Regions from separate parts of the Homo sapiens genome. Here region 2 is linked to region 1. The links come from fine-mapping of genetic effects on plasma protein levels. A gene starts in region 1. The other region holds a variant in brackets. All regions are shown on one strand. Distances are from middle to middle.

What was found. A credible set is the group of variants that fine-mapping cannot tell apart. PIP is the chance, under the fine-mapping model, that this variant and not a neighbour inherited with it causes the effect. Protein levels are from antibody-based Olink assays in UK Biobank. Linkage for the fine-mapping came from a reference panel and not from the study's own genotypes, which makes the PIPs less certain.
Region 2: its variant is the best candidate, but not a certain one, in a credible set for the plasma level of the PRSS22 protein (UK Biobank, PIP 0.80).

Annotation. Positions count from the first base shown.
Region 1 is chr16:2,853,457-2,861,779 of GRCh38, reverse strand. PRSS22 (serine protease 22) reads left to right here and starts at 3,610. Exons shown (of 6, transcript NM_022119.4): 1 at 3,610-3,757; 2 at 4,932-4,958; 3 at 5,527-5,698; 4 at 5,929-6,206; 5 at 7,758-7,915. The coding sequence starts at 3,676. RefSeq lists enhancers at 2,424-3,023, 3,024-3,624, 3,625-4,225.
Region 2 is chr16:2,910,312-2,918,634 of GRCh38, reverse strand. It overlaps FLYWCH1 (FLYWCH-type zinc finger 1), which reads right to left and starts at 6,704. Exons shown (of 10, transcript NM_001308068.2): 1 at 6,481-6,704; 2 at 4,346-4,459. RefSeq lists silencers at 6,071-6,260, 6,234-6,333, 6,364-6,513, 6,534-6,843, 6,894-6,953. The variant T/G (reference allele first, on the strand shown) is at 3,341.

The DNA.
Region 1 (8,323 bases):
CTTAAGATAATGGCCTCCAGTTCCATCCACATTGCTGCAAAAGACATGGTTTTGTGTTCTTTTTTATGGCTTCGTAGTATCCCACTGTGTATATATTCACCACATTTTCTTTATCCATCATCTGTTGATGGACACTTAGGTTGATTTCATGGCTTTGCTGTTGTGAACAGTGTTGCTGCGATGAACACACGAGTGCAGGTGTCTCTTTGATTAAATGACTTCTTTTCCTTTGGGTGGATGCCCAGTGGTGGGATTGCTGGTTGAATGGTAGTTCTAGTTTTAGTTCTTTGAGAAATCTCTATCCTGTTTTCCATAGAGCTAAATGATGTACTTATTGTTTACAATTCTCTGTTTCATCCGATGTCCATGGCTTTTGGTTTGCTCATTGCTGTATCTTCAGCACTTCGGACAGCGCCGGCATACAGGCGGTGCTCTGCAAATGCTTGTTGATTGAGTTAACAAGGACAAGGAGAGTGTCTTATTTCCCTTGACTACTCCAGCACATGGTGGGTGGGCTCCATAGCCTTTGGTGGGACAATGAATGGATAGCCCTGTTCAAAGTAGCTCCCCAGACTCCTGGGCCCACATCTGAGATGCCACCATTGGCGAGTCACTTCTTTTGCCAGTGGCAGCTGCTGTTAACATGGAAATGCCCCAGTGGCCCTGTCAGTCATCACCACTCCAGTGCACATGGATCAGAGGCCCTGAGGCCAGGCTGGCAGGGAGTGGGGGTGTGGGTGGCAGGGGCACACAGCTCATCCAGAGCTTGCACAGGCAGGGATGCTGGCCAGCATGTGGGTCTAGCATTGGCAGGCGCTCAATAAATATTTTGTTGAGTGAATGTTGAATCATGCCAGGGTCTCCACCCCGTGGCCTTTCAGAGACTCCACCCTCTATACCCTGGGAATTGAGGAACTGCTGTCTGGGGCCCTTCCCCAGGACTTGTGCCAGGAAATCTTCACCCAGCTCCTCAGGGCTTCCCCCTGCTCCTACCAGGTCCTTCTCCTCGGGGCTCTCTTCCTGGCCACCCTGTCTCAGGGATAGCGGCATCTTGGGCAGGGCCCATGGCTACCCTTGGGTATCCAGGGCAGTGAGCTGGCTCTTCAGAAAGGCAGAAAAGCTGGAATGGAGAGGAAACCTGGGCGGGAGGCAGAGAGGGAGGCTGGAGTGGTCGGTCCCCAGCCACTTGCAGACTTGCTTCTTCCACACTCATTTATACATTCAACAAACACTCGCTGAGCCCCAGGGTGCAGCAGGCACTGAATATGATCCTGGGGGTCCACAGGGAGCCCCCCTGCCCACACTGTTTCCCCAGCACCCAGCTTCACAGTGGCCCTCTAGGGTCCAAGCCACCGCCTGGTCCCATGGTTCTGTGCCCACCTCCCGGACACCTCCCTGTCATCCGTCATCTGCCTCCCACCCCTAGGAGGTCATGTGCTTCCTGAGCACAGGACCTGCGTCTTATTCATCACATGTGTCCTGGTGCCCACCAGGGCCTGACATACAGCAGGTACTCAATATATGTTTGCTGGGTGAGCTGGAGAGGCCACCCACCTTATTCCAGAAGGCAGTGGGGTGGGGCGCAGGAGGGCCCTGGACGCCCTGGGTGCAGAGCTGAGCGGGGGACAGTGAGTAGGGTTGGGGGAGCCCAGCAGAAATTTCTGCTGCAGTGCTGCTGCTGCTCAGAGACACTGCCCCTCCTTGGCCACTCTGCGTGGCCTTTTCCTGCAGTTCCCCCAAACCCCCTCTGAGTCCTGGGACAGAGAATAATGCATCCTCTGGGGCTCCCCAGGGCCCTGCTGTTTGACTTGTCTCTCGGTGGAGCAGGGCATGGCCTCTCTGCCACGAGAAAGTGCCAGTCGTCCTGCTGCCACCCTAACCCTTAACAGACTGAGGAGGTGGGCAGCACAGAGTCCACCCCCAGGGCAAAACCCGTCCTGCTCAGAGCCATGGAGTCCCTGAAGCAGCCATGGTGGTCTGCTAAGCCCCTGACCCACGCCACCCTGACTCTGCAGGGAGCAAGTTAGGGCTCACCCCAGGCAGGGTGAGGCACCTCCTCCAGGCTCCCGAAGCCTCCATGAGGGCAGTCCCAGCAGCCACCCCCAGTGTTGGGGTGCAGGTCCGGCTCCACCACTCACCCAGCAATCTCGGGCAAGTCACTTAACCGCCCTAAGCTGCCTCAGTTTCCTTATCTGCAGAGTGGGAATAATAAAGACATTTGAGGATTAGGAGGCAATGCATGGCACTCCTAAATGTTTGCTCTATTATATAAATACTATATTTATATTTGTATAAATATATTTATTACATACATATTCACTACTATGGTTTTTTTTTTTTTTTTTTGAAACAGAGTCTCGCTCTGTCGCCCAGGCTGGAGTGCAGTGGCGTGATCTCAGCTCACTGCAACCTCCGCCTCCCAGGTTCAAGCGATTCTCCTGCCTCAGCCTCCCAAGTAGATGGGACTAAGGGCGCCTGCCACCATGCCTGGCTAATTTTTTTTTTTTTGTATTTTTAGTAGAGACGGGGTTTTACTATGTTGGCCAGACTGGTATTGAACTCCTGACCTCATGATCTGTCCGTCTTGGCCTCCCAAAGTGCTGGGATTACAGGAATAAGCCACCCCACCCAGACACTATGGTTGTTTTTAATTCACCCCCGGCGGTAGCAAGGGCCCTGCTGGAGGCTTGTTGATCGAATGAGTGAAGGGGCGCAGGCTCCTGCCTCTTTGTAGAGGAGGAAGCCTGCCCTGCTTGGGTGGGAGTGTCCCAAGTGTGGGGCGCTGCAGGGCACTGAGTCAGGGAAGGTCTCACAGGATTCAGCCCCGGGTTGCCACTGTGGCAGCCGCTGGGGGGAAGCACCGAGAATCCACTCCCAGCCCAGGACCCGGCCCCCCACAGCCCAGCCCAGCAGCTCTTTGAATCCTGGGAGTCCCAGCCCTTCCCGGGGCCCCTCTTCTCTCAACCCCCCTGCTTGGCCGAGCCCTGGTGCCCATGGGCTCCTCCCCTTCCCAGGAGTCCAGGTGAGGTGAGTTGTCAGGTGTCTGAACCGCAGGGCAGAGCCCCGCCTCCAGGAACGACAGGAGGGCGGCCACCAGGAGGCCACCAAGGTCGCCACTCACCTGATTCACAGCTTTCGGGAAGTGGGTTAACGGGATTCCCAAGCCCGGGTTGCGCCAGGTCTCTGGGCTGAGTCACAGGGGCCTGGGGCCCTGCAGGTGGGAGCCGTTACTGAGCTTTGGGCACCCCCTTGATCCCTAAGGCCCTAGGACCACCCCCAACACCCAGTACCCCAGACTTCAGCCTCTCCAAACCCAGGCCCTCCCCAGCCCGGAACCCCTTCCTTTCAGTGCCCTGGCACCTTTCTCTGCCCCTGGACAATTAATGTCAGGGACCTCTGGGCCCAAGCCCCCTCCCCTGCCCTTCCAGAGGCCACATCCTGGGGTCTCAGCTAGAGCCCCCCCAGAGCCCTGTAGCGGCTGGCTTCCTCCCCGCAGCCCCGCCCTCTGCCCAGGACCCACAGCCGGGGTGGCCGCGGGAGCCACCTGGGGACTGGTCTGACGGCATTCCGCCTCCCAGGATAAAACCTGGGGCGACCTGCAGGGAACCTACACACCCTGACCCGCATCGCCCTGGGTCTCTCGAGCCTGCTGCCTGCTCCCCCGCCCCACCAGCCATGGTGGTTTCTGGAGCGCCCCCAGCCCTGGGTGGGGGCTGTCTCGGCACCTTCACCTCCCTGCTGCTGCTGGCGTCGACAGGTACGTCCGGAGGCTGCTCCTCCCTCCTCCCTCTCACCTCCACCCTCCTTCCCTCCTTCCCTCCCTCCCTCTCTCCCTCCTGGCCTTGCCTCTCTCATCTCCTTTCCGCTTCTGCTCTGTTTATCTCTTGCTCCTTAACTGCTCTGTGCCTCGGTTTCTTCTACGGCTGTGAGGATGAAACAGAAAACGCAGCAAGTACGCAGCGCGCCTCGGTCTCCAGTTACCGTCGGCGTCGCCATCGCCTGCTCCCTCTCGCCTCCGTGTTCTCCCATCTCCTCGTCCTCCGCTGCTTGCCTCTGGGGAAGCACCGTTTTGTGTTGTTCCTGCCGCAGGAGGTCAGGGGAGGGCACACCAGCGGCAGCAGCGTCCAGAGCCGAGGGGCTCAGGTCTGTGCCTCCCTCGAGGAGCCGGTCCTGGTCCCCGGAAGGCAGGCTGGACGGGAAGCTGCGGGAGGGCAGGGTCACAGCTGTGCAGCCAGGGCCTGGCCAGGCCCCAGGAAATGCCCCGCCGGTAGGGGCCCTGGGGTTGAGAGACTTGAGAGTCTCCCTGGGCACTGGAGGGCTAGAGGTTCCTCACCACCAGGTACTCAAGGGGACCCCCTCCTCACTGGGCGCTGGGACGCCTGCTCACTGGGCGCTGGGACCCCTCCTCACTGGGCGCTGGGACCCCCTCCTCACTGAGCGCTGGGACCCCCTCGTCACTGGGCGCTGGGGACCCCTCCTCACTGGGCGCTGGGGAGCCCTCCTCACTGGGCGCTGGGGACCCCTCCTCACTGGGCGCTGGGGAACCCTCCTCACTAGGCGCTGGGGAGCCCTCCTCACTGGGCGCTGGGGACCCCTCCTCACTGGGTGCTGGGACCCCTTCCCACTGGGCACTGGACCCCTTCTCACTGGGTGCTGGGGGCTTCTCGCTGGGCGCTGAGGGACCCTCCTCACTGGGTACTGGGACCCCTCCTCACTGGGCGCTGAGGGACCCTCCTCAGGGGGTGCTGGGACCCCTCCTCACTGGGCGCTGAGGGACCCTCCTCACTGGGTGCTGGGACCTCCACCTCACTGGGCACTGGGATCCCTTCTTACTGGGTGTTGGGGGCCTTCCTCACTGGGCGTTGAGGGCCCCTCACCACTGTGTCCTGGGGCCCCTCACCGGCCTAACCGTTTCCTTCTCTTGCCCTCAGCCATCCTCAATGCGGCCAGGATACCTGGTGAGTGGAGCTGGCAGCTCTGACGGGAGGGAGAAGGGAGGAGGCCCACGCGCAGGCAGTGTCTATGTGTCCGTCCCCTGGGCACAGGTCAGAAAGGGGCTGGGGTGAGAGGGGGAAAGAGCTAGAGGGGAAGGGAGGCAGGAAGGAGACACGGATGCAAGGAGAAAGGCTTGAGAGATGCCAGGGCCAGAGGAGAGAGAGAGCCAGGAAGGTGAACAGAGTGGAAAGCAGGGTAAGGAAAGAGGGGGAGGGAGAGACCAGGTGCAGCTGACAAGGAGTGAGTGGAAAGGCCAGGGCCAGGTGAGGACCAGCAGAGAGTGAGGATGGAGGGAGGGATGGGACGGGGAGGTGGGCGGAGCTTGGGGTATGGGTGGAGCTTAGGATGTGGGTGGAGCTTGGGGTGTGGGTGGAGCTTGGAGTGCAAGTGAAACTTGGGATGTGGGTAGAGCTTGGGGACATGAACGGAGCTTGGGCTGTGGGCAAAGCTTGGGGTGCAGGCCTAGGGATTGGGATTCCGGGGGTGGGTTGTAGGAAGTTGGAGATAACAAAACTTGACCGTACCCTCCAGTTCCCCCAGCCTGTGGGAAGCCCCAGCAGCTGAACCGGGTTGTGGGCGGCGAGGACAGCACTGACAGCGAGTGGCCCTGGATCGTGAGCATCCAGAAGAATGGGACCCACCACTGCGCAGGTTCTCTGCTCACCAGCCGCTGGGTGATCACTGCTGCCCACTGTTTCAAGGAGTATGTACAGCCGGCCTGGGGCACTTGATCTTCTAAGGCCCTGGGCTTTGTGCCCCAGGCCCTGGGCTCCCTTTACAGGCTCTGCTTCCGGGCCTCTGTTCAATCTTGGTGCCCCTCGATTCTACCTAGAAGCCTCTCCTGCCTTCAGGGGCCTTCACACCCATGCTGTTCCCCCAGGTACCTCCTCCCAGACCAGGCCTGGCTGATCCTCCCCTTCCCTTTCCTTCCAGCAACCTGAACAAACCATACCTGTTCTCTGTGCTGCTGGGGGCCTGGCAGCTGGGGAACCCTGGCTCTCGGTCCCAGAAGGTGGGTGTTGCCTGGGTGGAGCCCCACCCTGTGTATTCCTGGAAGGAAGGTGCCTGTGCAGACATTGCCCTGGTGCGTCTCGAGCGCTCCATACAGTTCTCAGAGCGGGTCCTGCCCATCTGCCTACCTGATGCCTCTATCCACCTCCCTCCAAACACCCACTGCTGGATCTCAGGCTGGGGGAGCATCCAAGATGGAGGTGCGGCTTCTTCCTCTCCAAGGTGGTTGGGGGCAGATGGGGACAGAGGATGGCAGACACTCAGGGACACAGACACCATGAGCAACAAAGGGTGGAGGCCAGAGGCACAGCATGACAGAGGTGGAAGGAAAGATGGGCTGCAATCCAGAAGAAACCTTGGTGGGCAATTTCAGGCCATTTCTCTTTTCTTTTCTTTCTTCTTCTTCTTTTTTTTTTTTTTTTTTTTGAGACAGGGTGTTACTCTGTCACCCAGGCTGGAGTGCAGTGGTGTGATCCTAACTCACTGCAGCCTTTGCCTCCCAGGCTCAAGTGATCCTCCCACCTCAGCCTCCCAGGTAGCTGGAACTACAGGTGTGTGCTACCACACCTGGCTAATTTTTGTATTTTTTGTAGAGACAGGGTTTTTCTGTGTTGGCTGGGCTGGTCTTGAACTGTTGGGCTCAAGCAATCCACCAGCCTCAGCCTCCCAAAGTGCCGGGATTACAGGTGTGAGCCACTGTGCCTGGCCTCATTTCTACTTCAAAAGTATCTGGCTATGTTTTGAGGCAACAGCCAGACCCGTGAAGCTATTCAATTCATCAATACAGGAATGGCTGAAAGGGGGTGTGTGTGGGACTAAGCTGAATACAGGGTGAATATAAAGAGGCCTGATTCCAGAGTGGGAACAGGCACCCCCTGGTGGTAGCATGCCACAATTGCGGGCAAAATTCTCGGGAGAAAATGCAGCCACCTTAATTGTAAAATATAATTTTCAAACCACCACTGGAGGTTTGGAAAACATCATCTCAAAACTCAAACTAGATTACATAAAGCAAGAAGCAGGGAAGCAGCAAGAGAAAGGTAGATGACAGATCGACAGGCAGATGGATGATAGAGACTGGGCCAAGGAAAAGAAACATACAGGCAGAAATGAGGATACAATGAAGACCTGGAAGAAAGAGTTTGAAAGAGAGAGCTAGAGACTAAGTAATAACAAAGTGTAAGACAGATGAAAATTTAACCAGATTCCAGAATAATTAAGAGAAATGACACTAGCTCAGGTGTGTGGGGATCCCAGTAACTCTGAGGTTGCAACCTCTCCATGATCTCTGTAGGGGCTTCTTCAAGAGCTAGAATCGCGGACTTTCAGTCCACAATCTGCAGACCACAGTCTGTAGACCAGCTCCAGGCAAGGCGTGGGGATCCCTCAGGTCCTGGTAATTTTCAACATCGAGTGGACATTTATTGAACACTTCTTCTATAGCAGTCCCAGTGCTGGATGAAGTAATGCAGTATCTGAGACAGGAAGGGCTCTAACCATCTGTGGATATAAGAAAATTTATTAAAGAGGTAGGGTCTTAGGTTTCACATTCATGTTCTAATTCAGCAGGGCCAGAGGTGGAGACCTGGAATTTCAATTTTCTGAAGGCATCTTGGGAGAGACTGGTAGAGCTAATCTGTTAGCCTTTGAGAACCGCTGCTGAGAGGAATGGTGTTGGGGGGGAATAGTCCTTTGAGGAGGCAACGAGGAGGGGAGACCCCCAAACCTGATTCTGTCCTCTTTCCTCCCAGTTCCCTTGCCCCACCCTCAGACCCTGCAGAAGCTGAAGGTTCCTATCATCGACTCGGAAGTCTGCAGCCATCTGTACTGGCGGGGAGCAGGACAGGGACCCATCACTGAGGACATGCTGTGTGCCGGCTACTTGGAGGGGGAGCGGGATGCTTGTCTGGTGAGCTCCCTCGAGCCCCCCACCCCTGGCCAGGAGGGCCTCGGGAAGGAGCCAGCGTCAGTCCTGTCCCCACTGAGCCCCACAACCTCTCCCTGGCCTCCTCCCCAGAACTGGCTGTGCCTGACAGTCCCGGGTCCCCATAGAACCAGCCTCAGCCTGGCTCAGCCACTCACTTATTTGTTCAGACATTAAACTGGGCATCCCAGCTGCACCACCTCGCCCTCCGCGAGCTTTCATTTCCTTCAGGGGGCTTCCCACGCCTCAGTGCCCAGAGCCAGCTGTAGCTCAGGGGCTGTCTGGAAGACGGTCAGATGGTGCAGCGGCAGCACCCGCGCCTGGACGTCTTAAGGCCTGGCTGCAGCTCCTACTCTGCCGCCGGGGACTTCTCACCTGGGTGGAGCTCAGGTC
Region 2 (8,323 bases), 57 kb before region 1:
ACCCCGTCTCTACTGAAAATACAAAAATTAGATGGTCATGTTGGTGCATGCCTGTAATCCCAGCTATTCAGGAGGCTGAGGCAGAAGAGTCACTCGAAACCGGGAGGTGGAGGTTGCAGTGAGCCAAGATCCTGCCATTGCACTCCAGCCTGGGCAACAAGAGCAAAACTCCCTCTCAAAAAAAAAAAAGCCTGGCGCGGTGGCTCACGCCTGTAATCCCAGCACTTTAGAAGGCCAAGGCAGGCGGATCACGAGGTCAGGAGATCGAGACCATCCTGGCTAACACGGTGAAACCCCGTCTCTACTAAAAATACAAAAAATTAGCTGGGCGCGGTGGCGGCCGCCTGTAGTCCCAGCTACTCGGGAGGCTGAGGCAGGAGAATGGTGTGAGCCTGGGAGGCGGAGCTTGCAGTGAGCCGAGATTGCCCCACTGCACTCCAGCCTGGGCGACAGAGCGACACTGTCTCAAAAAAAAAAAAAAAAAAAAGGAATCCAAGGCCAGGCACAGTGGCACATACCTCTAATTCCAGCACTTTGGGAGGCCGAGGTGGGTGGATCACTTGAGGTCAGGAGTTCAAGACAAGCCCGGCCAACATGGCAAAACCCCATCTCTTCCAAAAAATACAAAAATTACCTGGGCATGGTGGCGGGCGCCTGTAATCCCAGCTACTCAGGAGGCTGAGGCAGGGAGAATTGCTTGAACCCAGGAAGTGGAGGTTGCACAGTGAGCCAAGATCGTGCCACTGTACTCCAGCCTGGGCAACAGTGAGACTCCATCTCGAGGGGGAAGAAAAGACTCCAGATTTTGGGGGGTGGGGAGAGGATCGGGGGAGGGGAAGAGGGAGGCCAAAGGAAGAGGGAGGAACAAGAATCTAGATTTTTCACAAATCCTCCTGATACTGATAGACTGTGAACTAGACTTTGACAAACACTAGAATAGATGACCTTGGGAAACAGAAGACTGCAGCTAAGCGACGAACCTAAGCAACACCTGAGGTTTGCTTTGTGCTGGGCACTAAAATACCTGAAGTATTTTATCTACATCATCTCATTTACTCTTTAATGTCATACAGGTTTCCTCATTAATGTCACAGAAAATCATTAACGGCCGGGCATGGTGGCTCACACCTGTAATCCCAGCACTTTGGGAGGCTGAGATGGGCGGATCACCTGAGGTCAGGAGTTCGAAACCAGCCTGACCAACATGGCAAAACCCCGTCTCTACTAAAAATACAAAATTAGCTGGGCGTCGTGGTGGGCGCCTGTAATCCCAGCTACTCGGGAGGCTGAGGCAGGAGAATCGCTTGTACCCGGGAGGTGGAAGTTGCAGTGAGCAGAGATCCCACCATTGCACTCCAGCCTGGGTGACAAGAGCAAAACTCCATCTCAAAAAAAAAAAAAAAATTATTAACAAGCTTACTTTGTATTATTGGGAAAGTCATGGCTTTTTAAAAATTTTTTTTACTTTTTTTTATTTTTGAGACAGAGTTTCGCTCTTTCACCTGGGCTGGAGTGCAGTGGCATGATCTCGGCTCACTGCAACTTCTGCCTTCTGGTTTCAAGCGATTCTCCTGCCTCAGCCTCCCAAGTAGCTGGGATTACAGGTGCGCGCTACCACGCCTGGCTAATTTTTGTTATTTTTTTTTTTTTTTTTACTAGAGATGGGGTTTCACCATGTTGTCCAGGCTAATCTCGAACTCCTGACCTCATGATCCACCCCCCTCGGCCTCCCAAAGAGCTGGGATTACAGGAGTGAGCCACCATGCCTGGCCGATTTCCTCGTTTTTGAAAGTATTAGCAATTTAACAAGTTTCAGGAACCTTAGGGGTATTTTGGGGAACCTCAAGAAGAGAGGAATTTGCCCAAATTTTAAGTACTACAGGTAAAATCTGATGGAGAAAGCATCCTGGACTTGCCTTCTGTGTCTCAGGATATCAAACAACGAATTTTTAAATTTCTTTTTTCTTTTTTTTATTTTTTGTTTTGTTTTGTTTTTTTGAGATGGAGTCTCGCTCTGTCACCCAGGCTGGAGTGCAGTGGTGCGATCTCGGCTCTCTGCAAGCTCTGTCTCCTGGGTTCACGCCATTCTCCGGCCTCAGCCTCCAGAGTAGCTGAGACTACAGGCACCTGCCACCAGGCCTGGATAATTTTTTGTATTTTGTTAGTAGAGACGGGGTTTCACCATGTTAGCCAGGATGGTCTCTATCTCCTGACTTCGTGATCCGCCTGCCTCAGCTTCCCAAAGTGCTGGGATTACAGGCGTGAGCCACCACACCCGGCCTGTATTTTTGTTTTGAGATGGAGTCCCACTCTGTTGCCCAGGCTGGAGTACAGTGGCATGATCTCAGCTCACTGCAACTTCTGCCTCCTAGGTTAATTATCCTGACTCAGCTTCCTGAGTAGCTAGGATTACAGGCACGCACCAACACGCCCAGCTAACTTTTGTTTTTAGTAGAGATGAGGTTTCATCATGTTGGCCAGGCTGGTCTCGAACTTCTGACCTCAAGTGATCAGCCCGTCTTTGCCTCCCAAAATGCTGGGATTACAGGTGTGAGCCACGGCACCTGGCCAAAACAACAGACTTTAAAAAGTCTAAGTTTCCTTATGGAGACTTCCAGGCAGGCAAACTCAGGTAGGCTTATCTGGTGAATCAGTACTATTGCTGCACTACATAATCAGGCCAAATATGATGAAATCAGCCTTATAATCAAAAATATGTTTCCTTGGCCACTGTAGAAGAGGCCAGTTTTGCCTCCATTTGCACATTCATTTCAATATTCCTGATCTAGAATCTTGTAGATTCTTCTTTGGATTCTCTCTTTTTTTTTTTTTTCTCTCGACACAGAGTCTTGCTCTGTCTCCCAGGCTGGGGAGCAGTGGCTAGATCTCAGCTAACTGCAACCTCCGATTCCCAGGCTCAAGCCATTCTGGTGCCTCTGCCTCCCGTGATCCGCCCACCTTGGCCTCTCAAAGTGCTGGGATTACAGGCGTGAACCACTGCGACCAGCCCATGTAATTTTAAAAATTGCTGACTGGAACCTAATGATTTTAGGACCAATGACTAAGCAGTTTCAAAAACAGTGCCCTAGACCAAAACAAAGGAAATACAATTCTTTTATACTCATATAAAGCAAACACATGTTAAAGATTTTACTTACCGTTAGCCAGTAAGGTGGAGCTCAGGAGTTTGAGACCGGCCTGGCCAACATGGTGAAACCCTGTCTCTACTAAAAATACAACAATTAGCTGGGCTTGGTAGCACAGGCCTGTAATCCCAGTTTGCCGCCTGGCCAACACGGTAAAACCCTGTCTCTACTAAAAATACAAAAAAATTAGTCGG[T/G]CGTGGTGCATGCCTGTAATCCCAGCTGCTCAGGAGGCTGAGGCAGAACTCACTGAACCTACCGGGGAGATGGAGGTTGCAGTGAGCCAAGATCACACCAATGCACTCCAGCCTAGGCAACAAAATGAGACTGTCTCAGGAAAAAAAAAAAAAATTTCAGTGCATGTAATAAAAATGAGTATATTTTAATACATTTATATTATTTAATAAATTCAATAAATATCTCATTTAATAAAAATTAGAAACTTTTGTTACTCTAGTTTAAGTGCTTTTTTTTTTTACAGTAGATACCCATTGTTTTACAGTAGATACAGGGGCCCTAATGTGTTTCTTTTGTAATGTTCAATCTTCATTCAGTACAAATTTCTTTTTTTTTTTTTTTTTTTGAGACAGAGTCTCACTCTGTCGCCCAGGCTGGAGTGCAGTGGCTCGATCCTGTCTCACTGCAACCTCCGCTGAATCCTTGAACCAGGTTCAAGCGATTCTGCTCCTCAGGCTCCTGAGTAGCTGGGATTACAGGTGTGCGCCACCACGCCCAGCTAAATTTTTTGTATTTTTAGTATAGACAGGGTTTCACCATGTTAGCCAGGCTGGTCTCAAACTCCTGACCTCTGGTGATCTGCCCACCTCAGCCTCCCAAAGTGCTGGGATTACAGACGTGAACCACCATGCCTGGCTGCACTCAGTACAGATTTCTTAAGTGAATGGAGCACAGGCCGGCAGATTTGCATGGAAAGCTCCAAAGTCTCAGTTCATGGTGCATCACTCTCCTGTCCTCTCTCCCCTTCTCCCAGAATTGAGGGTGCGGAGCAATTTGAGTGCAATGCCAGATGGCCTACTGGGACGCTGCGGTCCTGCTGGTGACCACAAGGGCTCAGCGTAGACCTAAGGGTCACATGTTAGCAACTGTCAGGTGTCTCTCAGACACCAAGGGGTCCAAACTCTAATCAGTAAGGCTCGAAAACCAGGCGGCTCTGTCGGCAGCTGATGGAGCCACAGAATTACCTTCACACGTGAGTGAGAAGCGTCACCATCATCCCCCACACCTGGGTCACGGCGCTGGCTTGCTGGGCAGGAGCCCCGGGGGCAAATCCCGTAACTTCTCTGGGCTGGTTTCACCTGTGAAGAAAGTAAAGTGGCAAATGAAATACTGCAGGTGAAATTATTCCATGAACTGTCGACCATTAGACAAGAACAAGGTGTTCAGCATCCAGGTGCAGTAGGGGTCCTGAGTGATAGGAGCGGGAGGAGGGAAGGCCCTCTGTTTAAAAAGCTTCTGAATGGGCCGGTGGCACGGTGGCTCACACCTGTCATCTCAGCAGTTTGGGAGGCTCAGGTGAGAGAATTGTTTGAGCCCAGGAGTTCGAGACCAGCCTAGGCAACATAGTGAGACCTGCCCCTCGCCCCCACCATTTCTACTAAAAAAATTTTTTTTTAAAGCTCCTGGATGACTCCAGTGTCTACCCACCTCCCACCTACCCGCAACTGAACCATGAGCGTTGGAGGTGCACTTGCCTCAGACATGAACCACTATGGTGACATCACAGGCTCAGTGGGTGCACACAGACATTCCTCCTGAAGAGGTTGAAGGTGGCAGAGATGCCCAGATAATTAAAATTTACTCTAAAAATGAACTTCACAATCTCAGCACCGTTGGCATTTTGGGCCGGATGATTCTGCTGTGGGAGGCTGTCCTGTTCAGCGTGGGGTGTTCAGCAGCAACCCCGGTCTCTACCTGCCAGATCCCACTGTCATGCCCTACCACACGTTGTGACCACCAACACTGCAGAACGTTCCCTGGGGTGCAGAATTGCCCAAGAGCCACAGCTCCAAAGCAACTTAGAAATTAGAGCGCACAGAAAGGGAGAGCTTGGCCAATGAGACCCCCCCAGCCCGGTATTCCCCAGTCACCCTCCATCATAATATAAGTTTATTTACTCCTTCCCACAGCCTAATGCATCCTCAAATCTCTCTCCCTCTATGCCTGATATACCCATCTTCCCTCTCCTTCCCACTCCCACCAACTCAGGACATGATCCCTTACCACGACCTCTTTAGCCCAAGCCAAAGCCTCTGAACGATCTTGCCAGCTTTGGCAAGCAGCCACTCCAATTCTCCACATAGGGTGCTGACAGGTCACTCTTCCTAAAGCTTAACTTTCAGCATGTCTCTCCCCAATTAAATCATCTCCATCTCCAGCCTTAGTGCATCATCAGCTGGGCGTCATAAACACTCCGCAATCTAGCCCCAACCTCAGCCTTGTTCCTTCCACACGTCCCGCCAGTAGCACTTGGGAAAGGAACAAGAGAAACATGATATAATCACACGAGAAAATCTAGATCAAGCCCTGGAAATCATATTGGCCCTTGGAAAGCAGAAATATGCAAATAAAAATAAGCCATTTCGTTGGAATTGGAGTTTGCACATGATTATCTGACTATGGGAGTTCAGCTTCCAGTACAAGGAATAAAGGAACAACAGGCAGGGTTTAGAGCGAGGGTTTCAACTACGTCAGACCCGTTATGTGCAGGCTCCATGGGTTAGCAGCAGCCTTTTGGAACGGGGTGGAAGAGAATGGAACGGAATTTAATCCGAACAGATCCAGCTGCGTCATGTGAGCTTAAACAAGCGTCTCCCTTTAAACTTGTGCTTCAGTCATCCAGACCCACAGGCACAGAGTACACGCGTAAAAGGCATTTCTCAGTGTCGGCTGTGGGTCAACAAAGTTCGAAAGCCGTCACCGGAGATCTATAGGGTCAGAAGCGGGAGCGGGGTGCGTCCCGACCCGCAAAAGTGCAAGGTCACTGGGACCGCCCGAGCTGCAACCGTGGGACGGGGCTGATGCTGCGGGTCCAGGAAGGCAGCGCTGGGCGGGGCAGACACCGCCAGGAAACGGCGGACGAGTGCGGGGATCCTTGATGTGGGGGTGTCGGGCTTAGGCCAGGGGACGGGGGGGTGGGGATGGAGGGGCGAGGAGCAAGGAGGGAATCGCGGGAGACCCCACAGGAGGCGGCCTGAGCGCCGGGACGCAGACCCCTCCCCAGCACCCGCAACCCTCGGGACCCCCGGGAGAGCCGGGCTGCGGGCGCGTCCACGCCGGGGACGCGGGACATTCCCCGCCCGCAGGGGCCTGTCCTCACCGACGGCAGCGGGGCCCTCCCTCTCCCGCGACAGCGCCGCGGCGGATCCTTCAGCCTCTGCCGCTGCAGCAGCGAGCGTCGACCCCGCGACCCAGGCCGCCGCCGCCACCCCGACCCGGGCACCAGCTCCCAGCCCCGACCTGCCCCTCGGGAGCGAGCCCCGTGACCGCGCGCGCGACCCCGCCGGGGAGCCGGCCTTGCGGAACGCTCAGGCGCGCTACTTCAGAGCATGCGCAGCAAGACCGCGCGGCCCGTTCCTTAGGTAAACCGCTGCTCCGGGTCTTCCCTGCGCGGCGCCGAGCCGCAGGCCTGGCCTGTCAGCGCATGGGGGCGGGGACGTAACTCACGGAAAAGGCGGGGCCATCCCGAGATTGGACGGCGGCGTCCAGGGGCGGAGCTAGGATGGGGGAGCTGAACAGGACGCTCTTGGCGTAAAGGGGCTGGGGTAGGGGGCGCTTAATTGAGACCCCAGGACGGTCCCCAGTATCTGAGGCTGCCCGCAGGAAACGGAGCGTTTGCTGAGATGCACTCTTGGGCCTGTCAGTTTCCTGACCCCGTGGGAAGGCGATTCTCATGCATCTCATTGACGCCCCCAGTGACCCTACCCCAGAGCGGAACCAGTGTGAGATTCAAATAAACAGCGATAGCAACGGATTATAACCTTGACTACGATATGAGTCCAAACTGAAGGAAATAAGTCAACGGGGGAGAAGGGACAGTTGTTTCTTACATCAGAAAGCCAACAACGACAAAAAAATACCTGGGCCGGGCGCGGTGGCTCACGCCTGTAATCCCAGCACTTTGGGAGGCCGAGGCGGGTGGATCACCTGAGGTCAGGAGTTCGAGAACAGCGTGGCCAACATGGTGAAACCCCGTTTCTACTAAAAATACGAACATTAGTCGGGCGTGGTACTGGGCGCCTGTAATCCCAGCTACTCGGGAGGCTGAGGCAGGAGAATAACTTGAACCCGGGAGGCGGAGGTTGCAGTGAGCCGAGACGGCGCCACTGCACTCCAGCCTGGGCGACAGAGTGAGACTGTGTCTAAAAAAAAAAAAGCAGAAATATTACATAGTATTACAAAGTCTGCATGACGTGTGATGTAACACATTGAATGTAGAAGCAGGTATGAGAGCCAGTAGTCTTCTTTTAAGCCCGCAACAAAGATATTTGCAAAAATGTATAACTATGTCACTCGTCTCACTAAATTTCTTTGGGAAAATATTGTACTTTTTCATAAAACTATGTTAACACAATCAGCTTACTATTTTTTGGTAAGATCTTTATTGAAATATAATTCACATACCATGCATTTCTCCCATTTAAAGTGTACAATTAAATGATATGTAGTATAGTCAGAGAGTTGTGCAAACAGCACCATAGTCAGTTTTAAAACCTTTCATCACTCCAAGAAGAAACCTTTAGCCACCACCCTCCAATTTGCTAATCACCCCAGCCCTAAGTAATATGATCTATTTTCTGTCTTTATAGATTTGCGTATTCTGCATATTTCATATAAATGAAATCATGCAACAAATATGTGGTCTCTTGTGACTGACTTCTTTCGCCTAGCCTTAGCATAGCACTTTCAAAGTTCATCCATGTTGGCCGGGTACAGTGACTCTTGCTTGTAATCCCAGCACTTTGGGAGGCTGAGACAGGAGCATCGTTTGAGCCCAGGAGTTTGAGATCAGCCTAGGCAACATAGTGAGACTCTTTCTCTACAGAAAAAAAGAAAAGAGGAACAAGAGAAAATTAGCTGGATGTGGTGATGCGCTGTAGTCCCAGCTACTCAGGAGGCTGAGGTGGAAGGATCACTTGAGCTTGGGAGCTGGAGGCTGCAGT